Linked DNA regions of Homo sapiens: region 1 is linked to region 2. The links come from fine-mapping of genetic effects on gene expression. A gene starts in region 2. The other region holds a variant in brackets. All regions are shown on one strand. Distances are between the middles of the regions.

The links. PIP is the estimated chance that this variant, and not a neighbour inherited with it, causes the effect.
Region 1: its variant is fine-mapped to the expression of CIAO2A in whole blood (TOPMed, PIP above 0.99).

Annotation. Positions count from the first base shown.
Region 1 is chr15:64,283,584-64,299,449 of GRCh38, reverse strand. The region is part of intron 2 of CSNK1G1 (casein kinase 1 gamma 1); the gene reads left to right. Among named protein-coding and RNA genes, the nearest start is that of CSNK1G1, 65 kb to the left of the region's middle. The variant G/A (reference allele first, on the strand shown) is at 5,908.
Region 2 is chr15:64,083,568-64,098,403 of GRCh38, reverse strand. CIAO2A (cytosolic iron-sulfur assembly component 2A) reads left to right here and starts at 4,566. Exons shown (of 5, transcript NM_032231.7): 1 at 4,566-4,759; 2 at 9,553-9,717. The coding sequence starts at 4,636. It overlaps SNX1 (sorting nexin 1), which reads right to left and starts at 2,422. Exons shown (of 15, transcript NM_003099.5): 1 at 2,232-2,422. The coding sequence starts at 2,390. RefSeq lists enhancers at 2,099-2,178, 2,319-2,438, 4,154-4,883, 5,244-5,293, 4,929-5,491 and 2 more.

The DNA of each region.
Region 1 (15,866 bases), 200 kb before region 2:
CGGCTAATTTTGTTTTTGTATTTTTAGTAGAGACAGGGTTTCACCATGTTAGCCAGGATGGTCTTGATCCTCTGACTTCGTGATCCGCCCGCCTCGGCCTCCCAAAGTGCTGGGATTACAGGCGTGAGCCACCGCGCCCGGCCATTTATATACTTTTTAATGGCTCTCCCTTGATGAGTGGGATAGAGAAAATAAAAGGCCGTATAAATATATGAAGTTGGAAATTAGCCTGGAGAATGTGGAAAGGTCATCTTTTAGGCTAAAGTGTTTTCTTTTCCTTCATAGCTCTTGAGACTGTGGATTAATGTGAAGACTCATTGTAAGAAACTTTGGCCCTTTGGGGGGAGTGGTGGGAGGGTGGGAACATAATGTAATTATGTTTGTTACCTCTGCTACTTCTTTTTCTTTTTGAGATGGAGTGTTGCTCTGTCACCCAGGCTGGAGTGCAGTGGTGCGATCTCAGCTCACTGCAACCTCCTCTTCCCAGGTTCAAGTGATTCTTGTGCCTCATCCTCCAGAGTAGCTGGGACTTACAGGCATGTGCCACCATGCCCAGCTTATTTTTTTTTTTTTTGTATTTTTGTGGAGACGGGCTCTTGCCATATTGGCCAGGCTGGTCTTGACCTCCTGGCCTCAAGTGATCCACCCGCCTCGGCCTCCCAAAGTGCTGGGATTACAGGCTGAGCCACTACGCCTGACCACCTCTGCTACTTGTGATGGTCCTGCATAGAGAACATGGACAAAATCTTATCTCTGATCCCCCATAGAGAGCCTTGGAGAAACATCACTATACTAGCCAGAGACCATTTGAATTTAAGAATGATGAGAATGGATTTATTTTTACTGTTAGAAGGCTGACAACCTGGAAATTCAGGACTTAATTAGGATAATGAAAGGATCTTTATATTTAGAATTGTGTTCGGGTTACCAAAGCCAGCAGATGCTACTTACAATACGAGTAAGATGTGTAATTACTGCTTTACTTTCTAGCAATCACAGAGTTGCTTTAACGAATAGTTCTGTGAATATTTCTTTATGTCATAAATTGACTGTAACATCACAGTACTACTTGGATGGATTAAATAATTATGACATAAACATCCATAAAATGATTGCTAAGAGGCAGTTTCTAAAGCATCTAAATCTTTGAATTCTCAAAACATCAGACAATTGTTTCATTTCTGTGAAAGTGAAGAAAAACCTTGGTGAATTAAAAGTGGAAATCTGTTTAATCACTGAAGTCTAGATTTGTATTATAAGTTTACGTGGGAAGGGAAAAATTCATTCAGTTAAAAGCATACATTTATAGCCCATATATATTTTCAGAGTAGTATTGTGTTTTGTTTCCTCTTTGAATCTGAGATAATTTTGATGTTTCTCATTTGGACTTGCCTGTAGTCAGAAGAACTTGTCTTTCTTTTCATGTGCTTTTACTCTTCTCTGCTTATCAAGTTTTCATTAGCCCTGGGACCATACTGTTATGGCCTTGTATCTAGAAAAGATACTTTCAGAATTATCTGGCATCTTCCTGACAATAGAGTGGGCTGCATACCCCATTCCGTCATTTTCTTGTTCTAATATTAGCGAGGAGAAGATTGTAAACTACAAAATTCCAAAGTCAAGGCAGGTGCAGTCAGCCTACATCATGGCTACCACCTACAAAGCTCTGCTTCTCTAAACTAATTTCCTTTCCTAGACACACAGTCTGTCAAACAGCCAAGTGCATTTCTTCTTATTCTTTTTTTTTTTTTGAGAGACAGGGTCTTGCTCTGTTACCCGCCCTGGAGTGCAGTGGCATGATCATAGCTCACGCAGCCTCCAACTCCCAGGCTCAAGCGATCCTCCTACTTCAGCCTCCTTAATAGCTAGTGCATAAGAACACGCCCAGCTAATTTTTTTATTTTTAAATGTTTTGTAGAGATGATGTTTTGCAGGCTGGTCTTGAACTCCTGGCCTCAAGCGATTCTCCTGCCTTGGCCTTCCAAAGTGTTGGGATTACAGATGTGAGCCGCCACACCTGACCAACCGTGTGCATTTCTGCTTCAGAGCCTTTACACTTGCAATTCCTTCTGCTTGCAGAATTATTTCCCTAAAATTTTGCGTAGTGGGTTGTTTCTCATCCTTTAGGCCTCAGCTTATGTCTTACCTTCTCAGAGAAACATTCTATCACTTGTTCCTCATTCTCATTTAAAATAGCACGTTTCTTCTCTAGCACATCCTGTCTCGTCAAACTGCTTTATTTTATTCATTGCATTCATCACTATCTGAAATGACCATATGTATGTTTCCCTATTAATTGCCTCTCCTTACTTGAATATAAGCCCTTTAAAGGGCAGGGATTCTTTCTGTATTGTTTACTGTTATTTATGAGATGGAAGGATAAAAAGCTGATGAATAGGAAGAGGGGGGAAAATAAAGCATACTTTCTTTGGGCTCCAGGTTTATGTGGGGGTGGTGGTAGATAGTAGACCTATCGGTTCCAAACAGCAAAAAAAAAAAAAAAAAAAAAAAAGTAACGATAGTGCATTTTGGTTCTCTGCAAATGTTTCCACCCCATTATACAGTTTTCTTTTTTTTTTTTCTTTTAGATGGAGTTTTGCTCTTTTTGCCCAGGCTAGAGTGCAGTGGCACAATCTCGGCTCACTGCAACCTCTGCCTCCCGGGTTCAAGTGATTCTCCTGTCTCAGCCTCCCAAGTAGCTGGGATTACAGGCGTGTGCCTCCATGCCCGGCTAATTTTTTATTTTTAGTTGAGGCAGGGTTTCACCATGTTGGCCAGGCTGGTCTCGAACTCCTGACCTCAGGTGATCTGCCCACGTCAGCCTCCCAAAGTGCTAGGATTACAGGCGTGAGCCACTGCACCCAGCCTTCATCATACATTTAACAACTATTTCTTGAATATTTACTGATACTAGACTCTGGGAAGGATAGAAATAAGAAGATATAGTTTTTGTCTCTACAAATACCACAGTCTAGTGGTAGACAGAGAAAAACAAATTGCAATACAAAGTGATAATATAGCAGATTGGGGGCTGGGTGTAGTGGCTTATGCCTGTAATCCCAGCACTTTGGGAGGCCAAGGCAGGCAGATGACTTGAGCTTAGGATTTCAATACCAACATGAGCAACGTGGCAAAACCTCGTCTCTACAAAAAATACAAAAATTAGCTGGGTGTGGTGGTATGCACCTGTAGTCCTAGCTACTTGGGAGGCTGAGATGGGAGGATGGCTTGAGCCTGGGAGCCTGATGCTACCATGAGCCAAGATCACATCACTGCACTCCAGCCTGGGCGACAGAGTGAGACCGTGTCTCAAACAAACAAAAAACCAGATTGTATGGAAACTACATTGGCAGAGAAGGTTAATAAAGGCTTCAAAGAGGAGGTATGATTTGATGATAGGACAGGATTTCTGCTGGTAGACATAAGGAAGAAGAGCTTGTGCAGGATACACAATCACTAGATACTGTGCAAGTGCCCAGCATATCACAGCAGCATTTAGTTATACATGACTGGGTCATAGGATGTGAAGTGAAAGAAAAGTAATAGAATGAAGCTTTTAGGTAAGTTGGGACGAAATTGTGAAGTGTTTGCATATATTAAAGCATTTGGACTTTATCCTGTAGGCAATGGGGTCGAATCATCAGGAGTTTTACAACAGAGTGACATAATCTAGTTTATATTCCAGAAAGAGAATTCGGGTTGTATTGTAAGATTAGATCAAATAGGAAAGAAGTTGACATCTTGTAGATTTTGCTCTAATTGTAATACTTATCATGTTGTACTTTATTCTTCCATTTCTCTCTCCCAAGATAGGTGTAAGGGTATTACTTTGCTTTTTAGTCCTCATATTCTAATTCCTTTCACTGTGTGTGGTATGTAATGGGTACTCAAGAAAGGCTGAATTGTCCAGGTCAGAAGTAGCAGGGCCTTTGGTCTTAGCTCTGAAAATGGAAGTGAGATGGAGAGAGGACAGGGTAAATTAGAAATTTTAGACATAGACTTTAGGCAGGATTTAGTCACTAATTATTTGATGGGAAGAAGTCAAAGATGACTAAATGTGCCAGCTTGAAGAGACCTTATAAATGAGGAAGATGTAAACCCATTTATGCCGGAAGCTGCAAATTTTTTTGTGAAAAATCAGACCTTGGTGATGACCTCGAGCAGTGTATATAAATAACTCCCACCAGCCTAGCGTTCCAATAATGGAACACTAGGCATAAATGAGTTAATTGAGATAGTAAATATAGGACTAGGGAGAGTGGTTGGGAAGGCAGGTAAGATAGAGTTTGTGAATATTTGAGGACTGGGTGACACATATGCAGAAATGCATATCTGAGACTTAGAAAGTTAGGCTTGAGATAGGGATTAAGAAATCACACCAAACTAGAGATGGGGTTTCACCATGTTAGCCAGGATGGTCTTGATCTCCTGACCTTGTGATCTACCCACCTCGGCCTCCCAAAGTGCTGGGATTATAGGCATGAGCCACCGCGCCTGGCCACCCCCCGACCCTCTTTTTTTTTTTTTTTTTTTTTTTGAGACGAAGTTTCACTCTTGTTGTCCAGGCTGGAGTGCAATGGCACGATCTTGGCTCACTGCAACCTCCGCCTCCTGAGTTCAAGCGATTCTCCTGCCTCAGTCTCCCAAGTAGCTGGGATTACAGGCACCTGCCACAACGCCCAGCTAATTTTTTGTATTTTTTGTAGAGACGGGGTTTCACCATGTTGGCCAGGCTGGTCTTGAACTCCTGACCTCAGGTGATCTGCCTGCCTTGGCCTCCCAAAGTGCTGGGATTACAGGTATGAGCCACCACTCCTGGCCCTTCCCTATCTTTTTAAAATGAGCCATGTGTATTTTGTAATCAGCAAAAAGTAGTAATCAAAGCAAAACAATTTCATTAAAGCAAATTTTTTTAAAAAGAAAATACACTTATTGCTTAAAATTTTTTTTTAATTCTACTTTAGAGGTGTCTGTGGAGATAACCAGTAATGATGGTTTAATTTTCTACAGCTCAAAAATGTGTATTAGGACATATTTTAGAAATGCAATCAAATTGTGCTCTAAGCTTCCTCTTATGGCTGGGCGTGGTGCCTCATGCCTGTAATCCCAGCCCTTTGAGAGGCCGAGGTGGGCGGATCACCTGAGATCAGGAGTTTGAGACCAGCCTGGCCAACATGGTGAAACCCCATCTCTACTAAAAATACAAAGAATTAGCCGGGCTTGGTGACGGACGCCTGTAATCCCAGCTACTCGGAAGGCTGAGACAGGAGAACCAGTTGAACCTGGGAGATGGAGGTTGCAGTGAGCTGAGACTGCACCACTGCACTCCAGCCTGGGAGACAGAGTGAGACTCCGTCTCAAAAAAAGAAGCCTCTTTTTATTGCTTAATAGAGCATGAACATCTTGTTTCAACTTAAATATATCTCATCAATTTTAAATATTTCTATAGTATTCAATTTAGCCATTATCAATATACACAAAAATTATTTTGTATTTTAATACTATAATTAATACAGTACTCCTGCAGTCCCCAACTTTTTTGGCACCAGGGACCCATTTCATGGAAGACAATTTTTCCATGTACCAGGGGTGGAGGATGGTTTCAGGATGAAACTGTTCCACCCTAGATCATCAAGTATTAGATGTAGGCTAGATCCCTCACATGCACAGTAATAGGGTTTGCACTCCTGTGAGAATCTAATGCTGCCACTGATCTTTCAGGTGGCACTCAGGTGGTAATGCTTGCTTACCCACTGCTCACCTCCTGCCATGCAGCCTGGTTCCTAACAGGGCCACGGACTGGCACTGGTCTACTCGATCTCCTTGTATTTAAAGTTGGTTTAATTTCTTAGACTACATCCTGGAAGCGTACTTTTTGTGTCAAAGGATATGTACGTTTGCAATTTT[G/A]TTACACATTGTCAGTTTGCCCTCCAAAAAGATGTTTCACTTTGTGTGTATGTGTGTCCTTGTGCTTATTTCCTCCAGTGCTTCAGAAATCTTAAACAATATCAAGAATCTTTTCATCTATGACAGTCTGATAGGGGAAAATGGTATTACTTAAATGTGTATGTGTTCATAGGTGAAGTTAAACATACTTACACATATTTGCTTATTTTTTTAAAGAGTATTTCTATGTGGCCTTTGCTCATTTTCAATGGAAAGATTATTTCTGTGGAGTCTTTTGTGTACTGCCTCAATGAAAGGAGAATTATGAAGATTTAAGACAGAAGGGAAAATTGATGGATAGTGATTGTGTAGGTAGGAGGACATGATGGGATGAAAACAGATTTTATAGATTGATACTAACTGAAAATCATGGGGAATCTTGTGAGAACTTTCTCATTTTTAAAGTTTTGAGCCTTCTGCTGAATCAGGCCTGGAAAGAATCATGTAAACATTAAAATAAAATTATTTTCCTCTAGAGTTAAGAAAATATACATCCTCAATGTACAAATAATTGCTGATGTTTTTCTTAGTTGCAAGAATAAGTAGATAGATGATATTTATTTATTTATTTATTTATGAGATGGAGTCTCGCTCTATCACCAGGCTGGAGTGCAGTGGCGCGATATTGGCTCACTGCAACCTCTGCCTCCCAGGTTCAAGCAGTTCTCCTGCCTCAGCCTCCTGAGTAGCTGGGATTACAGGTGCCCGCCACCATGCCCGGCTAATTATTTTTTGTATTTTTTTAATAGAGACAGGTTTCACCAAGTTGGCCAGGATGGTCTCTATCTCCTAAGCTAGTGATCCAGCCACCTCGGCCTCCCAAAGTGCTAGGATTACAGGCATGGGCCACTGCACCTGGCTGGTGATATTTCTTTCACATCCACATAGGGGTGCACGTATGTTTATGGGAGACCTGTTAGACTAGAGAGACAGGCGTATGATTTTAATAATATTCATATTATCCTTTTGAAGTAGGATAGAGTGAGAGGATGTTTTTACTTGCATACAACAAAATGGAGGCACAACAAATTAACCTTTTTGATCTTTTCCATCTTTGGTGTCTGATGAAATATGCAAAAATGCATTAACACAGGATACTTCTGACAAAGGTAAATAAATTGGCTAAGGGTAGCAGCTTGTTCTGTGACACTCCTGCATGGCTTCTAAAGTAAGACACTTATTTCTGTGATTGATGTAGGATTTATATGACAGGCTCTGCATATTGTTCTTTCCTTGTCTGAATTACTGAACTGTCACTTGTGAACTTAAATTGGAACTTTTTTTTTTTTTTTTTGTGACGGAGTCTCGCTCTGTCGCCCAGGCTGGAGTGCAGTGGCTCGATCTTGGCTGACTGCAAGCTCCGCCTCCCAGGTTCACACCATTCTCCTGCCTAAGCCTCCCGACTAGCTGGGACTACAGGCGCCTGCCACCACGCCTGACTAATTTTTTTTTTTAATATGTGTATTTTTAGTAGAGACGAGGTTTCACCATGTTAGCCAGGATGGCCTCGATCTCCTGACCTTGTGATCCACCTGCCTCGGCCTCCCAAAGTGCTGGGATTACAGGCGTGAGCCACTGCGCCCTGCTTTTATTGGAACTTTTAACTTCTGCTACTAGCTTTTCTTTTTTTGGCAGTTGTAATTATTAACAATTTACAGATGAATACTATCTAAAGCAGTTCATTTCATATTATATCCCACAGTCTTAGATCCATTATTTTCCACTCCAAGTCAATGAGAAAAGAAAAGTGAGCAGGCAGAACTCTCCATGTTATCTGTTTTATACATTTTATACATTTGAGTTTTCAATAAGATTTTGTTTGAAAGGTATGATTCTGCTGCTTTAAACATTTTTGAAAATCATCTGAGAGAATGCAGGCTTAAGATGAAACATAATTTTATTTTATTTTATTTTTGAGATGGAGTTTCACTCTTGTTGCCCAGGCTGGAGTGCAATGGCATGATCTTAGCTCACCGCAACCTCCACCTCCTGGATTCAAGCAATTCTCCTGCCTCAGGCTTCTGAGTAGCTGGGATTACAGGTGCCCACCACCACACCCAGCTAATTTTTTGTATTTTTAGTAAAGATGGGGTTTCACCATGTTGGCCAGGCTGGTCTCAAACTCCTGACTTCAAGTGATCTGCCCGCTTCAGCCTCCCAAAGTGCTGGGATTACAGGCGTGAGCCACTGCACCCAGACCAAAATGTAACATAATTTAAAGGTATTTCTTCTCTAGTTCAAAATGAAGCCATTTTAAAATCAAATTTTTGCTTTTAAGTTAATAGTTTCTTAGAAAATCATGGTATTTTAAACAAATGAAAGTGTATCAGCCAAACACCTAATTAACCAGAAACATTGATATATATTTGTAACCTTGTTAAAGTTTTCTTATAAATTTACAAATTTTTAGGTTCTGTGGATGGAACAAACTAAAACAAGTTTTAGAAGTCATGTCATTCTTCTGCTTAAGTGATTAAAAATAGGAGTCTTGGCTGGGCATGGTGGCTCACGCCTGTAATCTCAGCACTTTGGGAGGCCAAAGCAGACAGATCATCTGAGGTCAGGAGTTGGAGACCAGCCTGGCCAACGTGGTGAAACCCCGTCTCTACTGAAAATACAAAAATTAGCCAGGCATGGTTGTGGGCGCCTGTAATCCCAGCTACTCGGGAGGCTGAGGTGAGCTGAGATCGTGCCATTGCACTCTAGTCTGGGTGACAAGAACGAGACTCTGTCTCAAAAAAAATAAATTAATTGAATTAAATTAAATTAAATTATAACTTTAGATAAAATGCATTCTAATTTTTTTGTTGTTATGTGGATATATTCCCTAATGGTGAAGTCTGGGTTTTTTTGTGTAACTATCACCTGAATAATATGCATTGTATCCATTAAATAATTTCTCATTTCTCACCTCTTTCCCACCCTTTTAAGTCTTCAGTGTCTATTATTCCACACTCTGTGTCCATGTGTACACATTATTTAGCTCCCACTTATAAGTGAAAGCATGCATTTTTTGATTTTCTGTTTCTGAGTTGTTTCACTTAAGTTAATGGCCTGCAGTTCCATCCATGTTGCTGCAAAAAACGTGAAATTTTATTATTTTTTTAAGGGCGGAATAGTAGTTCATTGCCTGTCTGCCTGTGTGTGTGTGTGTGTGTAAAATGTGTGTGTGTATGTGTATGTGTATATATATATATAAAATCATCCATGAGGGACACTTGTTTCCGTATTTTTGGCGATAAACATAACATATGCAGGTGTCTTTTTGATGTAATGATTTCTTTTCCTTTGGGTAGGTACCCATTAGTGAGATTGCAGGATCAAATGGTGGTTTTAGTTTTTTGGGAAACTTCCATACTGTTTTTCATAAAGGGTGCACTCATTTACATTCCCGCCAACAGTGTATAAGTGTTCTCTCTTCTCTGCACCCATGCCAACATCTTTTATTTTTTGACTTTTTAATAATAGCCATTCTTAGGAGTGTAAAAGGCTTATTGGAAAAACCAACAAAACAAAAAATAATAATAATAGCCATTCTGACTGGTATAAAATTATATCTTATTGTGGTTTTAATTTGCATCTCTCTGCTGATTAGTTCTTTTGAGCGTTTTTTCATATGCTTCTTGGTCATTTGTATGTCATTCAAATGTCATTCAAATGAAGTCATTTGTATGTCTTCATTTGAAAAATGTTCATGTCCTTTGCTCACTTTTAGATGAGGTTATACGGTTTTTTGTTATTGTTTGTTTAAGTTCCTTGTAAATTCTTACAATTAGTATTGTAAATACTATAATATCCTTGTAATTGGATATTAGTTTCCTGTTAGATGCAGTTTGCAAATATTTTCTCCCATTCAGCAGGTTGTCTGTTCACTCTCTTATTTCTTTTGCTGTGCAGATGCTTTTTAGTTTAATTAAGTCCCATTTGTCTATTTTGTTTTTGTTGTGCATTTTAATTTTCTTGGAAGAATATCAAATGTATATGAGATTCTTGTTTGTAGTAGTATCGTAGTTTAAATTTCTTTTGGAATTACACCCTAGTTTAACTTAAGCACAATTTGTTAAGGTTAAGCAGTTTTAACAGATCTTGGAGAAGAATTATTTCTGTCAATAGCATAATCCATCAAAATAAAGTAGAAATGAAGAGTTCTAACCACATTAGGTGACACACAGTCTGCATTGCATTAATATGGTAATTTTAGAAGTGTCACAGATACAATACTTGCAAGATTATGCATTGACATCTTGAATGGTTAACCAGAAGAATGTAATGGTAAAATTTCCAGGCTTGCCAAACAATTCCGGAATTTTTTTTTTTTTTTTTTGATACAGAGTCTCACTTGTTCGCCCAGGCTGGAGTGCAGTGTTGCAATCTCGGCTCGCTGCAGCCTTCATCTCCTGGGTTCAAGTGATTCTCGTGCCTTGCCTCAGCCTCTGGAGTGGCTGGGGTTACAGGCGTGCACCACCACGGCCGGCTAATTTTTGTATTTTTAGTGGAGATGGGGTTTCGCCATGTTGGTCAGGCTGGTCTCAAACTCCTGAGATCAGGTGATCTGCCCACCTTGGCTTCCCAAAGTCCTGGGATTACAGGCATGAGCCACCATGTCTGGCCACAATTTTTGAGGAGGACTATGAAAGTAGGATGGTTATGGGCAACAGAAGTTTATAGAAAGATGTGTTTATGAGGGTGATTCAGAAGCAGTATTTACATGATGTCATCATGCATCCTAAGGAAAAAACTGTCTGAACTTATGGCCTACTTTTCCAGAAGGCGGCAAAGCTTTTGTCAAAGAAAGTGGAGCTTACTGCCAGCTGTTGTGGGCTTTCAAAGAGCAGGTGATGCTGGATTGATTCAATTTTTTTTTTCTATGTTGGGGTTACTAGGACAAGAGGAAATATATATATATACACATGCACACAAACACACACACACATACACACATATATATATATAACTTTATAAAGTATCATGTAATATTTTTTATAATTTATCTTTAATTCCAATAACTAGGTTACATAGATTCTAAAGTTCTGAATCCTATAGGCAAGTGGTTCAATTATTTTATCCATGTCGTCTAGATACCTCCTTATTTCTAAATATTATTTCTTAATTTTTTCAATATTAGATGTTGTTATTGATTGTCTCACAGATGCCATCCCTAATGACGTACATACCTTGCCCATATTCTCCCAATATACTTATGTCATATTTTTTGGTTCAATAATTTTTTTACATTTACAGCTTTATGGCTGTGGAAGTATTGTTTACAACCAATCTATGAGAGCACTGTTACTGTATTTCCTTTTTAGTATGACTCCATCATTCCTTCCCTCAGAATTAAAAATTGCTGATACTTGATTTTTAAAAAAAATTCTTAGTTATCAATATACCTTTCATTAATTTTTTTTCCTCAAGTCCAACAATTAAAAAATTTGTCATGATATTAGGTAATTCTGTGTTTAGATTCCTTTTCTGCTGGATGGCTTAGTTTTGCTAAGTCATTTACCATTTGTTTATTCAATTCTCATCTTCCAAAATGTTGACATCTCTAGTCTACTGTTTCCTCACCTGTTCTCTTTGTCCTTTCTTGTTTCCTTTGTCCTTTCAGTGGGGTTTTGGAAATAAATAGAGCTAAATGTCTCAATTTTTTTCTGCCATGTTAAACTAGATGTCTATGTTATACATTTTTATTTCAGCAGGGCATTTATTTGACATACTTTTGTGTATTCTGGTAACATATAGAAATGTGCGGTGACTGAAAAGATAATTAAGTAGATTTGTCATTCCTTTAACCATCTTCATAAAAGAGAATGAGTTAATGGATCATTGCCCTCATTGATGCTAAACAGTAGAATTCTGTATTTTGGTCCTATCCACTTCAACAGTGAATTGGATCAAACCTTTGAAGAACATACTGATGAAAGCTGTACACAACACAGTGCTTTGGGTGGGGCAGCTAATATGTATTGCTGGTTAACAGAATCAAGATTCAGCATTATATTAAATAAGCAAAGAGTTGAACAAAAGTCCTAACCATGGTTCACAAACCAGTTCTACTGTACAATTTTAGATTTGACAACTAGATTAGCAAAAATTAATATGAAAAAGATGACTGTAAGTTTAGAATGAGACAAGAATGGTCCCAGGCTTCCCAAAAGTTTATGGTAACTTTGAGTAACTTAATATGTGAAGTCCAGATCAACAAAAGTAGTTAAGTTTTAGACTTATAAGGAACTTTAGCATTGTCTAGTTCAACTGTCATCGTTTTAAAGATGAGAGAAATTAAAAATTAAGTGACTTGGTCTAGGGAGAACAACCAGCTTGTCACAGAATTGGAACTACAGCCCAGATCCAAGACATCACAAGTAGCTATTTCTATTATATGCCATGTAGTCTTACCGGTTACTGGTTAAATGTATAGTTGAAATACCACAAGCCAGAAAAAAATAGTTACAAAAGACATCAGAATAAATGTCTAATTATAATACAAAGATGATAGTCATTAGCATTTAATATAATTACATGTTACCAGAAAAAGAAATATAAATAAAGTATAAAATGATAACTAATGATCTTTTAAGTGACACCATCTAGTTTTTATGGTGGATCATCCCCAACATTAATCGTCAGAGATTTTCCAGGGGGTGAGGAGGAAAAACATTGGTAAATTAATTATTGTGAAGTTTAATATTATACTATTGCAAAGTAAATTTAGAGCAGAATCAAAGTGGAGGATGTTATAAACACTATGCCTCTTTCAAATAAAAGGCTAGGGGTAGATTTCCATAATTACCTAGCCATTTATTCATTTAACAAATTGTATTGAGCATCTGGTTTTTTGGCAGGCATTTAGCTAGGCCCTGGGGGTACAAAGATCATAAATAAGACATGGACCCTGCTTTTGCCAAGATCATTATTTGGGGATTCATACTTAGAAATTAGTAACTATACTGCAATGCAGTAAGTAAAATAATAGAAGAAATATATAAGATAATTAGCTTATATATATTTATAATTCTAAGTGTTTTTTGATTAAAGGACTATTCCAGGTAGTTTGGGTTAATGTTTGTACTGTGAAACTAGAAGTTAACATGTTAACAATATGAGTTAACAATATATTGTTAACAATATTGTTAACAATAACATGTTAACAATATTGTTAACAATAACATGTTAACAATATCAGCAGAGTGGGGTCCTTTTTGAGGGTTGTAATGCTACTTTTTATACTTGTTAGTCTTCCAATGTAGCTTAGAAAGAGTGATATCTCTGCTGGAATTGGCAAATGGCAGAAAACCTGCACAAATAAGACACTCTGAGTTGAACCTTTAAGGCTCGAGCTGGGCAGTAAGGAGAAAGGGCTGGGGTCCGGGGGTGAGAACGTGAAAGAACATTCTCAAAAGAGGAAGCCGCACCATACAAAAGGCATGGAGGTGTGAAACACAAGAAAATGTAAAGAACCTCAGCACTGCTGGAAAGCATGGGTGACTTAAGATCCACAGGGGTCGTTCAGTGGAATTGGTATTAGGAAGTGAGGCCGGAGATGTGAGCAAAGCCTGTTCTTGATCATGATAGAGATTTTGGACTTTATTGTGTAGGCCATGAAAAAAGGAGGAATTACAAGTCATCGTTTTTTTTTTTTCCCCTTCTTGGAGAAGATAAATTAACTAGAGTGATCTCACTCCCCTTTCCTCCAAAATGTAGTTTTTCTGTGCTTTTAGAAAACATGGAGCAATCTGTTTTTATCCAGAGGTGTTCATAGCTAAAGAATAGTAGGATTTTTTTCCAGTTTATCAGGGCAAAAAGCTGAAACAGTAAATGCTTTGTGATTTAAGTAATTCTAAATGTTTTTTGATTAAAGGACTATTCCAGGTAGTTTGGATTAATGTTTGTTTGTACTGTGAAACTAGAAGTTAACATGTTAACAGTATCTCAGCAGAGTAGGGTCCTTTTTGAGGGTTGTAATGCTACTTTTTATACTTGTTAGTCTTCTTTATTTTATAAAGTACTTCAGCAAATAGATTAACCTAAATGATAAACAGTTTTTTTGGATTTGAACATCTAGACTATAGACAGGTTTAGGATAATTCTAATTTATGGAGCTTTTTTGTTTTGTTGGTTTGGGCAATTTTTTTTGGTAGGCAATATTGCAATGTCATCACAAAAATTAGAACAAAGACTTTGTTCAGGTATGTGTGTACCTTGATATAAATGTTGGATATACTTTGGGATTCGGCTTTTTTATTAACTACATTGCTATGTGGTTTTCATGATTATAATTTTAATGGCTACATTCTATTTCTTCAAGTGGAGTACTAGAACTGTTAACCATAAAATTGGGCTTCCAGTTAAATCTAGATTTTATTATAATAATAAATAACAATAAACATTTTCATGAAAATAGAGGTTATTATAAGAAATGTATCTTCCTCTGTAGCTTCTGGATAAATTTTATTTTGTATAGATTGCACAGAAAATTTATACATTGATGATACAACTATATTTTTCAATAGTTTTATTCTACTCTAAAATATTTGTATTGAGGAGTCAAGGCTAAATGTGGAATTTTTCACAAAATTTGTATACAGTATAAGTTAACAGTAATATGAATTAGAATTATAAATTATATTTGCTGAAATTTTTAGCTGTGTCTTAGTAAAACTTTCATATGATATCACTTGTGTTAATAAGCTCCAGCTGTCTGGAACAAGGCTGAGGACTAGGAAACAAATCAAAATAATAATAAAAATTAAAAATATCTTAGCCAAAATAGTTCCCTAGTAGACATTTAAGAGATACTAATATTATTCTCATTAAAAGACATAATATGTTTCTGGGGATAGATCATGAGAGAAGAGGTCTGAATCAGTATTACACAAAAGTATATATATTTAAATCAAAAATTAAAAAAATTAAAAATTTCACTTACATTAGCATCAAGAATAAAATACTTAGGAATAAATTTAATAAAATGAGTACAAAATTTATACTCTGAAAACTATAAAGTATTGTCATAGGGAATTTAAGATCTAACTACATGGTAAGACATTCCACATTCATGGATCTCAAGATTTAATATTGTTAAGATGGCAGCACTCCCCAAGTTGAAGTACAGATTCAACACAGTCCTTATCAGAATCTCAGCTGGCTTCTTTGTGGAAACTGAAAGCTGATTCTAAAATTCATACGGAATTTCAAGAAACCCAGAAGAGCCAAAACAATCTTGAAAAAAGAAGAACAAAGTTGGATGACTCATACTTTGGATTTCAAAATTTACTACAAAGCAGACAGTGTGGTGCTCCCATCAGGATAGACATATAGACTGGTAAAATAGATTTGACACCTACCCATGAATCTCTAGTCAATTGCACTTGACAGGTGTGTCAAGACCATACAATGGGGAAACAATAATTATTTTGACAAGTGGTATTGGGACAACTGGATAGCCACAATCAAAAGATTCAAGTTGGACGCTTACCTCATACCACAAATAAAAAATTAACCCAAAGTAGATCAAAGGACTAAATGTAAGAGTCAAAACTATAAAAGTCTTAAAAAAAACAAACATAAGGATGAATCTTACTGCCCTCATATTTGCCAGTGGATTCTTAGTTATGATACCAAAAGCATAAACAGTAGAAGAAAAAAACAGATAAATTGGATTTCATAAAAATTTAAAACTTTTGTGTGACAAAGAACACCATCAAGAAAGTTAAAAGTTGGCTAGGTGCAGTGGCTCATGGCTGTAATCCCAGCACTTTGGGAAGCAGAGGTGGGTGGATCACTTGAGGTCAGGAGTTTGAGACCAGCCTGGCCAACATGGTGAAACCCCGTCTCTACTAAAATACAAAAATTAGCTGGGTGCGTTGGTGTGCTTCTGTAATCCCAGCTACTCAGGAGGCTGAGGGCAGAGGTGTGTG
Region 2 (14,836 bases):
TTAACTCTAGAAAATAACTCCTCACTCTTCCAGGTTCCTTTTTGGAAAATAAATCAACATTTGCCTATGTGACCAATCACTTTCAGTGTCAGAGTTTCTGTTTTCATATTCTCAGTCTGCACATCATTCCAGCAGTTACCAACAGTAGCTGTCTTCCATGACTTATAGAAGAATTACTAAAGGAACAGACTAAATACTTACTTAAAATAACATACAGAAGGACTAAATTAGCGGCAAGAATTATTATTTCTCAGGCATGCACCTGCAATCCCAGCTACTTAGGAGGAAGGGAGGATCCATTGAGCCCAGAAGTTCAAGACAAGCCTGGGCAACACAGGGAGACTATGTCTCTAAAAACAAACAAAAATTGTTTCCTGTTTTATGACAGTCACAAAGACTTATTATTTCTCAGAATAAGAGACTTCATTTGACAGTTTTAGTTGTTATATTAGAATTATCAAGCACCTTATGAGCTGAGATTATGGACTCAATTTCTGAATACAGGACAGGGAAAATCTGACACAAATGAGGAAAGCCTCAAACTTTTTCAGACCACATGTTGCATAAAGAATTTATAGCTGTTTTATTTAGTTGGTTACACACTGAGTAGCTACTGTGAAGAGAAGCATTATGCCAAACAGATAAATTCACAGACCCAGCATTGAATTTTACAGCCTGGAACAACCTATACCAAGTGGTATGAGTAAATATTCTCATAAAATAGCCCAAAACATCTCTACTGGTTCCATAACTGATTACTGATTTCCACATTACAAAGATTATTTTTTTCTAATACCTAACTCTTATTAGAGACCCGGATATTTATTACTGAGGCAGGAGAATAGGGTCTGGAGGCAGGGAACTTAAGGGCAATTCATGCTGAATCAAGGAAAAACACCAAGGTTTGGGGGCAGGGAATCTGAGGTCAACTTACGTTAACTTTCTAAAAGAGAAAACACCAAGGTCTGGGGGCAAGGAATCTAAGGCCAATTCGTGCTGACTTCCCAAAGCTGAATTCCCAAAAGGAACCCCCTGGGTTTGGGGGCAGGGAACCTAAGGCCAATTAAGGCCAACTTCCTAAAGCTAAACCAAAAGGAAAAAACCCATCTGCCCACGCCCGAGTGGCAAAGGATCAAAGGCTACTATCCCTGCAACCCTCCCCATCCACCACGTCTCACATGGAAAGGGAGAGTGCCTTAGACTGGCCGCAGGCCAAGCAGGGACCATCCGTTCATCTGCACAGGACGCCAATTCACCTCGGCCTTTAGCCACAGACCAAATCCTTCATCCAGATAAGGGGTAACCCATAGGAACCATAAAAGGAGCACTTAAAATCCAGAAAACTTTGTAAGTGGGCTCTTGAGCCCCTTGCTCCGGCCCACTCACACCCTGTGGGGTGCTTTCTCGCTTTAATAAATTCCTGCTTTCGCTGCTTCGTTTGTGTTTCATTCCTTTGTTATTTTGTGCGTTTTGTCCAATTATTTGTTCAAAATGCCAAGAACCTCGACAACCTACACTCAAGGGCCTCCTACCGGTAACATTACGGGAAACACCATTTCCTCATCACATTTCAGATTTGCTCCCAGTGAGGTACGTGGGCACTTGAACACATCCCTTTAAAAAGGAGAAAGCTTTCTGATCTATGTAGTGATTTATCTGGCAGTGCCTTCTGTCCACCAGCCTCTGGCCTGATTTTCCTAGAGATCAGAAGAATCAACATAACTTTTGTAAACTAAGATCCAGAAAGGGCCTTTGGTTATTATCGGTAAATGCTGGGCTAAAGAAAGAACTGGTGGGCGGGTCACCACCCCAGGCTAGTCCACATAACGCTATTCATCTTAGAAGCAGTAAGACGGGGGAAAGGTCTGCATCCCATTCGCTTATTCCGTCCTACTGAATCTGCCTTGGCAGGACACGACCTGCAAAATAACCCCGTGGATCCGTGGAGTGTCACCACACTGCAGGGTCAAAGGACGGCGTCGGCGGTTCTCGGCTGTTAGGGAGCTAGCCGACGAAGGCACCACAACCCTCATTCTTTACTCTTCCCGCCTGGGGGCCGGGAAGCCAAGCTCTACCGCTTCGAGCACATCCAGGGTCCCCGGGGCCCGGACTGCTGACACCGAGGCAAGGTCTCACCGGGCCCACTCTGCCCAACCTCCCCGATTCTCGCTTAGCCTCTCTTCCCTTTCGGGGTGCCCTCCCGCCTGCTACCCCGAGGGGTGCAAACTCACGACCACCGCGGCGCCGGTGAAAATGTCCTCCCCCTCGGTGTCGCTGTCCCCAGCCTCGGGTTCTGATCCCCCGGCCGCCCCCTCGGACTCCGGCTCCAGGCCGGGGAAGGGCGGAGGCAGTCTCTCCGAAGCGCTACAGCCACCACCACCCGACGCCATCTTCTTCCACCCGCGGCGGAAGCCGCAACAACAACTTTATCGAGAGATAGCGCCGTGAGCAAAGCGATCCAACGGTGCGAGGAGTGGGAGGGCCGCAAGGGACCCCGTGGGATCCGAGGGGCGGAGACCTAGGGGCGGGGCTTAGGCGCTGGGGGCGGGGCGGCACCCGGCCAGCTGAGGCTGCGCAGCAAATCCGAGGCCTGGTTCGCGATGCTGAGATATTAACGAGTGGGGCCAAAGGGGCAGAAAAGTAGGAGTTAGGGGCTGCTCAGGTTTCTAGGGCCCTTTGTGCTCTGGATAGCTTTATCCAACAGGCTTCTAAGAGTTCGTCTGAATGAAGGAGTGTCACTAAAATGTTTGAAAACCTCTACATGCCATCTACCCATGCCAAGCACAATGCCCTCACAGAGAGTCAATAAATATTTCGATTGAGGTATCTGAACAAGACTAGAAGAAAGCTTCACCACTTATTCCTTGAGCAACATTCAGTTAATTCATTAAGAAATACAGATACTGAGCATCTACTGTATGCCTGGCACCTTGCTGTGAGTTTCAGATACAGAAATCAGGTATTTAATCGACAGTTCGACATGTTCAATGCTATGGTGCCCTGTGGGAGCACAGGGAAAGAGATAATCAATTCTGCTTGGAGAAGTAGGGAGGCCTCACAGATGAAGTGAGGCCTCAGTGTCCTAGATTTGGCTGGAAAAATGTTAGGATTATCCTCTCAATTGCTGTGGAGTAAGTGGAGTGGAATAGACGGCAGGGAAATTATTGAACCCTGACCAAAATTTCCTTGGGACCTAAGCAATTCATTGTCTGGTGATCCTAAGGCCTACATTAACTAGACAAACAAGACTGGAGTTTAAAGATAAATGGGCATGTTAGCATGGGACAATTCTGCAAGATAATCCTATCTTCTCAATAGAAATGGCATTTGTCACCAACTTTGACAAGAGGTTTAGTTAGTTTGGTTGTAACTGCAAATTCAGGGATGGACTCCCTCACAGGTCATGTGAGCTGTTTGAAGGCGGGGGCAGCGTTTTATCTTTGTATCTTCCATGCCTATGGATCACCTATGGCAAATTAGTACCTACAAATTTGATCGGAGGGATGGATGGATAAAATAAAATCGATTTTGTTACTGGCATCCATCACACCCACGAACACCAGAGGGCTTAAGATACACTTTTTTTTTTTTTTTTTTTTTTGAGGGAAGTCTCGCTCTTCTCCCCCAGGCTTGAGTGCAATGGCTCGATCTTGGTTCACTGCAACCTCTGCCTCCTGAGTTCAAACGATTCTCCTGCCTCTGCCTCCCAAGTAGCTGGGATTAAGGCCCCTGCCACCACGCCCAGCTAATTTTTGTATTTTTTAGTAGAGACGGGGTTTGCCCATGTTGGCCAGGCTGGTCTCGAACTCCTGACCTCAGGTGATCCGCCCGCCTCGGCCTCCCAAAGTGCTGGGATTATAGGCGTGAGCCATCGCGCCCGGCCAAGATACACTTTTAAGGATGGCGATCTCCATTATGTCACCACTGTACACATTAGACACGGGAAAACTTATGTTCTAAGTTGTCTTTGGAGGCCATTAGCAGAAATATTCGTTCAAAGGTGGGAAGCTGTGCTGGACTGAGTCCCTTAGGAGACGAGAAAGCCAAAAAGCCCTCCCCATGCCATACCTGACTACCTCACTGGCTTCCCATGACATCCCTTTTCACAGCAACTGAAACCTACTTCCTGTCCGATCAGGAAGTAAGAAAGACGTTGGCTGTCAGCGGATCCCGCGGAGAAATAATTGTAAAGAGTCTCCGTGCTGGAGAACTCAAGATCTCCTTTCCCCTACCCCTTCAGGATTCATCTTTAACTTATCACGGATACTGAGTGAGTCAGTCGCGGTTAACAGACCGTTACATCCACTTCTACCAGGCGGACACTACAAGTCCCAGAATACAATTCGCTGCCTTCCGAAGAAAATAGCTCACGCATCCCAGCATGCAATGTGCTGACGAGCCGCGAAGATTGTTTTTGTCCCGCCGAAATCGAGCAAAGCACGCTGGAACTTGTAGTCCTTGAGGCCCCTTCCCTAGGTCCTTCGAGCTACTCCGTCTGGCCCCGCCTTTTCTCTGCTCTCCTGAACCTTTAGGCTTGTCTCGGCCCATTTGAAGACCAGGAAGTTGATCAATCCCGAGGCTGCTGAGAGACGGTGGCGCGATTGGGACAGTCGCCAGGGATGGCTGAGCGTGAAGATGCAGCGGGTGTCCGGGCTGCTCTCCTGGACGCTGAGCAGAGTCCTGTGGCTCTCCGGCCTCTCTGAGCCGGGAGCTGCCCGGCAGCCCCGGATCATGGAAGAGAAAGCGCTAGAAGTTTATGGTAATTAATTTTACCCAGCACAGCATTTGGCGTTATAGGTGCAGGCCGGAGCTGAGGGGTGCGGGGATGATGGCCTCACCTGAGGGCTGGGAGGGGAGACCTTTTTTTTTGTTTGTTTGTTTGTTTGTTTTTGGCCAGATCTTGTCCGGGGCGTAGCAGGCGCTTTCTTCGGGGTCCTAAGTCACGTGGGGGGTGTGGGTCTTTCTGGGAACTGGGCTCTTCGTAAACCTGGGGCAAGCCGAACCCAGAGGTCTTAAAAGCTTCATTCTCCACGTGTGGCCTACGTCTTAGTAACCATTCCAAGACTTGTGGGGAGACCACAAGTCTAGGGTGCCTGGTTAGGAAGCAAAGCTGGCCTGATTGCACTACTAGAGCCTCGTTCTCTAGCTCCTGGACACGCACTCTTGCTACCGCTGAGGGCGCTTGTGGGTGACAGTCGAGTTGGGGACTGGCCCAAGGTCACAGCCACTCTATCCGGCAAAGTCAGTAAGCAGAGGTCCCCGAAAGAAGAGAACGAGATTGGCTTCTTGTAGCAAGGCCTTGTGTACACACACATAACGCACACACACACATACACACTCTTCCATGTTGCATATTAAATATTTTCTGTTTAACCCTTGGGGCCATCTTTATTGTACAAATGAGGAAACAAAGGTTAAAGAACTACCTGGAGGTCACACTGCCAGTAAGGAACAGAGCCAAAAAGCAAAGGCTGTGCCTACTGGTTCTAACCGTAATGCACTTTCCACCACTTCACAATTGCCTTACAACTTTTTGTTTGTTTGTTTTTTTAATTATGTTGTATTGTTTTTGAAAACCGAAAAGACTGGATATAATATTGAGAGATCTAACCATAGAATACAAATATAATTCAAGTAAGGATTATAGGCCAGTAGAAGGAAGCCAGGGTTAGGAAATACTCTGGGAGCTAATTTGGTTGACCTCTCTTACTAGAGGCAGGACTTACCTAATCAGCCTCCAGGCAGATGATAATTGTGAGTAAAATGATCTCCACAAAGCAGACCACATCCCTGTCCTGCCAGATCTCTGTCCACATAATCTAGGGATGGTAGGGCACTGGAGATACAACTTTGGAAGAGAGTGACTCTAGTCTTCAAACTGATATTGAAGGAAACCCATATATGCAAAAATAGAGTATGTAATAGAAGGCTGTAGACTGAATAAGAGATACAGAAATTCAGAGAAAGGGAGATACTAGTCTCTGACTGAGGGGATCTAGAAAGACTTTGAAATAAAGAGAAGGAGCCACTTGAGTTGGGCCTCAAAGAATAATTAGGATCTAGATATGTAGAGGGTCAGAGGGCATACTAAGAGGAAACTTAAAAGCATGGAGGTAAGAAGATAGGAAATGACAGATAGATGGGGCTATAGGATAGGGTTTGTGGTTAAATGTGAAGATGTGGTTGAACATTGTTCTAGGTAGTGGGATGCAGTTGGATACTGAAGGTTTTAAATATAAATGAAGAATTTTAATAGTGCAGTGCTGTGGAAGAATGTTAGTGTGGGGAGTAATATGAGGAGAACTTTCTTTTAAATTTTTTTTTTTTTTTTTTTTTTTTTGAGACAGGGTCTCACTCTGGTAATCAGGCTGGAGTGCAGTGGTGCAATCACTGCTCACTGCAGCCTCCATCCACCTCCAGGGCTCAAGCCATCCTCCCACCTCAGCCTCCTGACTGACTGGGACCATAGGCATGCACCACCATGCCCAGCTAATTTTTGTATTTTTTTGTAGAGATGAGGTTTTGCTATGTTACCCAGGCTGGTCTTGGACTCCTGAGCTCAAGTGATTTGCCTGTCTCGGCCTCCCAAAGGCTGGGATTACAGGCATGAGCCACCACACCCGGCCCTTCTTTCTTTTTAAAGAAGTAAAGCCAAACCTCTCAAATCTAGAAACTAGAAAACTAGAGAAATTTAATAAGGATGATATTTAATTTCAGGGTTTAGTGGCATATAAAGAATATAATACAATTAAATGAGCCTTATGGGGAGAAAGCCTAGTATGAGAGGCAGAAAATTCCTTTTCAGAAAACTCTGTTTCCCTAAGTCCCATGATAACACAGCTCTGTGAAAGAGAAGCTTTGTCGACTTTCTTGCCTATGTTTTCCAATTCTGCTTCTTTCTTTCTTTTTTTTTTTTTTTTGAGACAGAGTCTCTTCTGTCACCCAGGCTAGAGTGCAGTGACACAATTTTGGCCCACTGCAGCCTCAGCCTCCTGGGTTCAAGTGATTCTCCTACCTCAGCCTCCTGAGTAGCTGTGATTACAGGCACATGCCACCACACCCGGCTCATTTTTGTATTTTTAGTAGAGACGGGTTTTTGCCATGTTGGCCAGGCTGGTCTTGAACTCCTGAACTCAGGTGGGTGATCCACTTGCCTCAGCCTCCCAAAGTGCTGGGATTACAGGCATGAGCCGTCATGTTTGGCAAAATTCTGTTTCTAATCAAGTGACAAGCCCAGGAGCAAATTAAAGAGAAAATAGAATTTGTTCTTGTTTTTCCCAGTTGCATTTCTGATTACATATAATTTTGTGTGATAAATAATAAAACAAAACTTCAGATTTGAGAACCTCAAGCACATTCTATGTAAAATTCTGCTTCTTTCCTTTCTACCTCACCATTTCTCTTTATTGTTCTCCTTTCCTTCATCTCTTTCTCCAGCCTCAGAGTAAGAAAGAAATCTTGTCTTCTCCAAGGCCAACTGAGACTTCTAAATATTTGATCCCACTCCCTTCTGCTTATTTTACCAGTCTCCGCTCCTCCCAACTTATATTTTCAATTTCTCTCCTCAAAGTTGCCCTTATCCTTGTCATTGTTCTAGCTTCCTTATAAAGTCATTGTCCTTTTCATGTCCCTCCCTTCCCAGCTAAGGCCCTAGGAAGACATTTTCAGTTCCTACTTGCTTCCCCTTTTGCAAGCTGGCTTCAGCGCACGCACTCTCTACTGAAACTGCTTTCTTACAGCTGGCTGGGGTGACAAATGAAAGACCTGTTTTAGCTCTCATGAGCCTGAATTTTTCTGCAGCATTTAATGTTATTAACCATCCCTCTCTTCCCTCCTCTAGTTCTTTTTGCTTTTGTTTCTCATTCTGATCCCTAAGTTAGGTGCTTCGCATGGATCTGTTGGGTCTCTTTTTTCTTTATACCACTGATTCTCATACTGGGTTGTACCTAAGAACAACCCGAGAAATTTTTAAAACTCAAAGGCCAGCAAACCAATTAAATCAGAGTCTCTGGAATTGGGGCCCAGGCATCAGGTTTTTTTGTTTGTTTGTTTTTGTTTTTGAGACGGAGTTTTTGCTCTGTTGCCCAGGTTGGAATGCAATGGCGGGATCTCGGCTCACTGCAACCTCTGCCTTCTGGTTTCAAGTGATTCTCCTGCCTCAGTCTCCTAAGTAGCTGGGATTACAGGCGCCCGGCACCACGCCTGGGTAATTTTTGTATTTTTAGTAGAGACGAGGTTTTACCATGTTCACCAGGCTGGTCTCGAACTCTTGACCTCAGGCGATCCACCCGCCTCAGCCTCCCAAAGTGCTAGGATTATAGGCCTGAACCACGCGCCCGGCCTTGTTGTTTGTTTTGAAACATTCTTGGTAATTCCAATGTTCAGCCAAGGTTCTACTTATTCTTTGTGAATCCTGTGGGTTTGACAACCACTCTAGCTTTGATGCTGTTTTAAACTCTATGCTACAGTTTACCACTTGCTAGAAAACTCCATTGGATAACCCCTTAAGCACCTCAAAATCATTCTGTGTGAAATTGAACTCATTTGCTCTATGCCCCACCCAAATTTCTTCCTCGTTCTGTTTCTTTTAGTTCTGCCAGTGTTGTCCTAGATACTATTTTAGGCCTGGTGTTTTTAGCTGGTATCATTGGTTCTGCTTTTTAGTCTGAGTCTAGCAGCTGATGATGAGTTACCAGCTGACAGCACAGTGTTGTCCATGTCACTTGTCTCAAACCTCTTGAGGACTTGCTATTGCCGGTAGCTGGCTGTAAAAGACACTTGATGGTCAGACCCAAATCTCATACTCTAAAACACCTTTCACTTATGCCTGCTTCCAGGCAAACTAGGGTTCTTCTTCTTTACTTTACTTTCCTTCACTTTTTTTTTTTTTTTGAGACAGGGTCTCGCTTTGTTGCCCAGCCTAGAGTGCGGTGACACGATCTCCGCTCTCAACCTCTGCCTCCTGGGCTCAAGCGATCCTCCTGAGTGGCTGGGACCACAGGCCTGCACCACTACACCCGGCTAATTTTTGTGTGTATTTTTTGTAGAGACGGGGGTCTCATTATGTTGCTGAGGCTGGTCTCGAACTTCTGAGCTCAAGTGATCCTCCCGCCTTTGCCTCTCAAAGTGGTTGGTTTACAGGTGTGAGCCACCATGCCCAGCTACTTTCCTTCACTTTAAATGTCAAATATTGAAATGTTACCTATTTTTCAAGGCTTGATTCAGATTCCGCTCCTATAAAGCCTGATAACCACATTCTTTCAAGCTGAAAGTTATTTCTTCCTCTTGAGCTTCCATGACACTGTTTCCATTCTTATTATATTTTCTCTGCAATGTCCGATTGGAGAAACTGGATATGGTCTTATAATAATCCAAGAAAACAGTTTTCTCAAGAGGAAACCAGTAGTGAAAATTTCTGTCAGAAACCTGGGAGTTGCTGTACTATTTGCTTAAACGTAAGAGAAGTCAGTGCTTAAATTAGGCCTGGCAAAATCATCTTTATTTAGAATAGTCATGTTTTAATAGAATATCTTATCTCTGATGATTCTTTAGATTTGATTAGAACTATCCGGGACCCAGAAAAGCCCAATACTTTAGAAGAACTGGAAGTGGTCTCGGAAAGTTGTGTGGAAGTTCAGGAGATAAATGAAGAAGAATATCTGGTTATTATCAGGTTCACGCCAACAGTACCTCATTGCTCTTTGGCGACTCTTATTGGTAAGTTTTTCTGTACATACATGTATATTTATATAAATTCTAAGTTATTCTTGCTGATATTGACCCATAATAACAATTTGCATCATTGTTGAAAAACCATACAGTGTATGTATTACACTTTATGGTTTACAGAGTATGTTCGTGTATTCATCTTCTGTAGTCCTCACAATTAGCTTGTTGAGTTAAAATATTATTATCTTCATTTTGCAGATGAGGAACCTGAAGCTCAGAGAGTTTAAGTGACTTGCACAGAATCAGGTAGCCAGGAAATGGTGAAACTAAGGCTCATACCCAGGTCTCCTGACTCCACTTCTCCTTTAGTTATGTCAGGCTGCCCCTCCCAGGTATATATGCCCACAATTAATGGAGAGTGCATGTGGGCCAGTGCTTTTCCTCAGTTCTGGAGGTTGGAGTGGGTGGTGTCAGACTAGCATTGCTTCCATCACCATCTCCTTTCAGTGACTCTTCTGGTTTCTACATAGTATGGGTAGAAGTCCTGGTAGGAGGTTGGATTCCCAGTATTTTGGATTTGTTAGCAGGTACAATAAATGTATTTGAACATATGCTTTGTTATAAAGGGATTTTATTTCAAACCAAATGTTCATGAGTAGGGGATTGATTAAATAATCATTGATGGTGAATATAAACAGTGGAATACTATGCAGCTATAAAAAAGAATGAAGAAGCTCTGCATGTACTGATATGGAGAGATCTCTATGACATACTGTTAAGAAATAAAAGCAAGTATCATTTTGCTATCATTTGTGTAAAAAAAGCAAAAACATACATTTGTATTTGATTGCATATGCCTGAATAATATTAATACATAAATGAATAGCTATAAGGGTGTTAGCGGGTAATAGTGGTGGTGGGAGCTGGGCAGATGGGGGAAAGGGTGGGAGGGAGACTTTATACCTTTTTATGTTTTTACATTTTCAAACCATGGGACTATCTCACCTATTAAAAAGCAACAAGTTTATAAAAAAGATTGAAAAGGTCGCTATTTCGTTATTATTTCCACTATTGTGATTTCTGTCTTTTCTCACTGGTTGACCTGGGTTCCCTCTGCTGGTGGTTTCCACCATATAGGCCACATCTTGAGGGACTGGAGGTCTGTGAATCCATAGGTATTATTGTGGTTATTAAAATCCCATTGGTGACCGGGCGTGGTGGCTCACACCTGTAATCCCAGCACTTTGGGAGGCCAAGGTGGGTAGATCACTTGAGGTCAGGAGTTTGAGACAAGCCTGACCAACATGGTGAAACCCCATCTCCACTAAAAAAAATACAAAATTAGGCCGGGCGCGGTGGCTTACGCCTGTAATCCCAGCACTTTAGGTGGCCGAGGCGGGCAGATCACGAGGTCAGGAGATGGAGACCATCCTGGGTAACATGGTGAAACCCTGTCTCTACTAAAACTATAAAAAATTAGCCAGGCATGGTGACGGGTGCCTGTAGTCCCAGCTACTCAGGAGGCTGAGGCAGGAGAATGGCGTGAACCCGGGAAGCGGAGTTTGCAGTGAGCCGAGATTGCACCACTGCACTCCAGCCTGGGCATCAGAGCGAGACTCTTATCTCCCAAAAAAAAAAAAAAAAAAAAAAGCAAAATTAGCAAGGCATGGTGGCACACACCTGTAATCCCAGCTACTTGAGAGGCTGAGGCAGGAGAATTACTTGAACCTGGGAGGCAGAGGTTGCAGTGAGCTGAGATCATGCCATTGCACACCAACCTGGGCAACAAGAGCAAAAACTTCATCTCAAAAAAAAAAAATTCCCATTGGCATGGCGGCTCACACCTGTAATCCCAGCACTTTGGGAGGCCAAGGCAGTGGATCACTTGAGGTCAGAAGTTCAAGACCAGCCTGGCCAACATGGTGAAACCCCATCTCTACTAAAAATACAAAAATTAGCTGGGCATGGTGGCACGCACCTGTAATCCCGGCTACTCGGGAGGCTGAGGCAGGAGAATCGCTTGAACATGGGAGGTGGAGGTTGCAGTGAGCTGAGATTGCGCCACTGCACTCCAGCCTAAGCAACAGAGTAAGACTCTGTCTCAAAAAAAAAAAAAAAAATCCCATTGCTAGAAAAAGCATTACTGAATGCTGAATGCATGGTTATTTTTGGTCATTGGACAATTTGTGAACGAACAGATACTGAAAGTACTGCTGTGGGTGTTGTGGAGGGGGTGTCTTAAAATATTTTGACATATAAGAAAGAGTTCTTAAATGGAGAGTTCAAGAACCTATAGCAAATTTATTTATTTATTTATTTTTTGAGCTGGAGTTTAACTCTTGTCACCCAGGCTGGAGCGCAATGGTGCAATCTTGGCTTACTGCAACCTCCGCCTGCCAGGTTCAAGCGATTCTCTTGCCTCAGCCTCCCAAGTAGCTGCAATTACAGGCGCCCGCCACCATGCCTGGCTAATTTTTTTTGTATTTTTAGTAGAGATGGGGTTTCACTATGTTGGCCAGGCTGGTCTCGAACTTCCAATATCAGGTGATCTGCCCACCTCGGCCTCCCAAAGTGCTGGGATTACAGGTGTGAGCCACCACTCCCAGCCAGCAAATTCATTTTTAAAATTAACATTTATTTAAATTATATGAGTAACATGTTTATTGGCAGTAATTTTGATACCCCACAAAAACATAAAGAAAAAAACCAGCTATTATGAAAGAATGTCACTGGGTGCAGTGGCTCACTCTTGTAATCCCAGCACTTTGGGAGGCCGAGGCGGGCAGATCATGAGGTCAGGAGTTTGAGACCAGCCTGGCCAACGTAGTGAAACCCTGTCTCTACCAAAAATGCAAAAAATTAGCTGGGCGTGGTGGCGGGCGCCTGTAATCCCAGCTACGTGGGAGGCTGAGGCAGGAGAATCGCTTGAACCCGGGAGGCGGAGGTTGCAGTGAGCGAAGGTCACGCCACTGCACTCCAGCCCAGGCTACAGTGCGAGACTCCGTCTCAAAAAAAAAAAAGAATATATGCTCTGGGCTAAAATTCCAGGTCTATTGGCTGTACCGTATTGTGGGCTTCGGCAAGTTACTTAACCTTTCCAAGACCCAGTTTCCTTATCTGTAAAACAGGAATAATAAGGATATCTATAGAGTCGTAAGAGTTAAGTAATAGCATGAAATACATGAATTATTTTTCTCATTAAATATTTCTTTTTTTAAATTTTTTTTGTTGTTGAGACAGGGTCTCACTCTGTCACCCAGGCTGGAATGCAATGACACGATCTCGGCTCACTGCAGGCAGCCTCCACCTCCCGGGCTCAAGTGATCCTCCCACCTCAGTCTCCTGAAAAGTTAGAACTTCAGGCAGGTGCCACTATGCCTGGCTAGTTTTGCCATGTTGCCCAGGCTGGTCTCAAATTCCTGGGCTCATGCCTCAGCCTCCCCAAGTGCTGGGATTACAGGCATGAGCCACCATACCTGGCCATCATTAAATATTCTTTAATTATATAGTTATAGGTTACATGCTAATCATATTGGTACATCAGAAGTTTTGTAACCATTTGGACTACTTCTAGCCTTTTGCAATTATAAATAATACTGTGATGAGCAACTTTATTTTATTTTATTTTATTTTATTTTATTTTATTTTATTTTTTGAGACAGAGTCTCACTTTATTGGCCAGGCTGGAGTGTAGTGGCCACTGGAGCTTCCACCTCCCAGGTTCAAGTGATTCTCCGCTTCAGCCTCCCGAGTAGCTAGGATTACAGGCATCCTCCACCAAGCCCAGCTAATTTTTGTATTTTTAGTAGAGACGGGGTTTCACCATGTTGGCCAGGCTGGTCTCGAACTTGTGACCTCAAGTGATCTGCCCTCTTTGGCCTACCAAAGTGCTGGGATTACAGGTGTGAGCCACCGCGCCTGACCGAACAACTTTATATATAAATATTTTTATTTATTTATTTTTTGAGACGGAGTTTCACTCTTGTTGCCCAGGCTGGAGTGCAATGGCATGATCTTGGTTCACCACAACCTCCACCTCCCAGGTTCAAGCGATTCTCCTGCCTCAGCCTCCCAAGCAGCTGGGATTACAGACATGCACCACCACACCTGGCTAATTTTGTATTTTTAATAGAGATGTGGTTTCTCTATGTTGGTCAGGCTGGTCTCTAACTCCCAACCTCAGGTGATCCGCCTGCCTTGGCCTCCCAAAGTGCTGGAATTAGAGGGGTGAGCCTCCGTGCCTGGCCTTATATAAATATTTTTATATATCTCATTATTGCATCAGGATAAATTCCTATACGTGGAATAATTGGGTTAGATTATGTAAGTATTTTGAAGCCTCATGGTATATATTGGTAAATCCCTATCTGGAAGTTTATACTGTTTGACGCAGGAGTTAAGGAACTAATTTTATAGAAGAAAATATTCGCCAGACGTGGTGGCCCACACCTGTAATTGTAACACTTTGGGAGGCCGAGGCGAGAGGATCACTGGAGCCTAGGAGTTTGAAACCAGCAATCTCTTAAAAAAGAAAAAAAACATGAAAAAGCTTGAATAAGTTCAAATTGCATCATGATTGCAGTTATAGAAAAATGTGTACGTGGACAAATATCAGGAGAGTGCATGAAATAAAAACTGTTCTGTAAGGGTGCTAACATTAGATTATAGTTGATATTTCAGATCTGTACACTTCCTGTAGAAAGTTTTGTCTTAGCCCTTTCGTTATGCATTTCAGCTAAGACCATTGGCTTTTTATTTTTTATTTTTATTTTATTTTATTTTATTTTTTTTTGAGACAGAGTCTTGCTCTGTTGCCCAGGTTGGAAAGCAGTGGTGCTGTCTTGGCTTACTGCAACCTCTGCCTCCTGGGTTCAAGCGATTCTCGTGCCTCGGCCTCCAAGTAGCTGGGATCATAGGCGCGTGCCACCATGCCCAACTAATTTTTTGTATTTTCAATAGAGACGGGGTTTCTCCATGTTACCCAGGCTAGTCTCAAACTCCTAGCCTCAAGTGATCCGCCCACCTCGGCCTCCCAAAGTGCTGGGATTACAAGTGTGAGCTGCCACACCCGGCCTATTGGTTTTTTAGAGAATTGTATAATAGTGTATCATAGTAGTTTTGTTCAGTCAACACAGCTGGAAAACTTGAGAGAAGCCTTCGTCTGTCT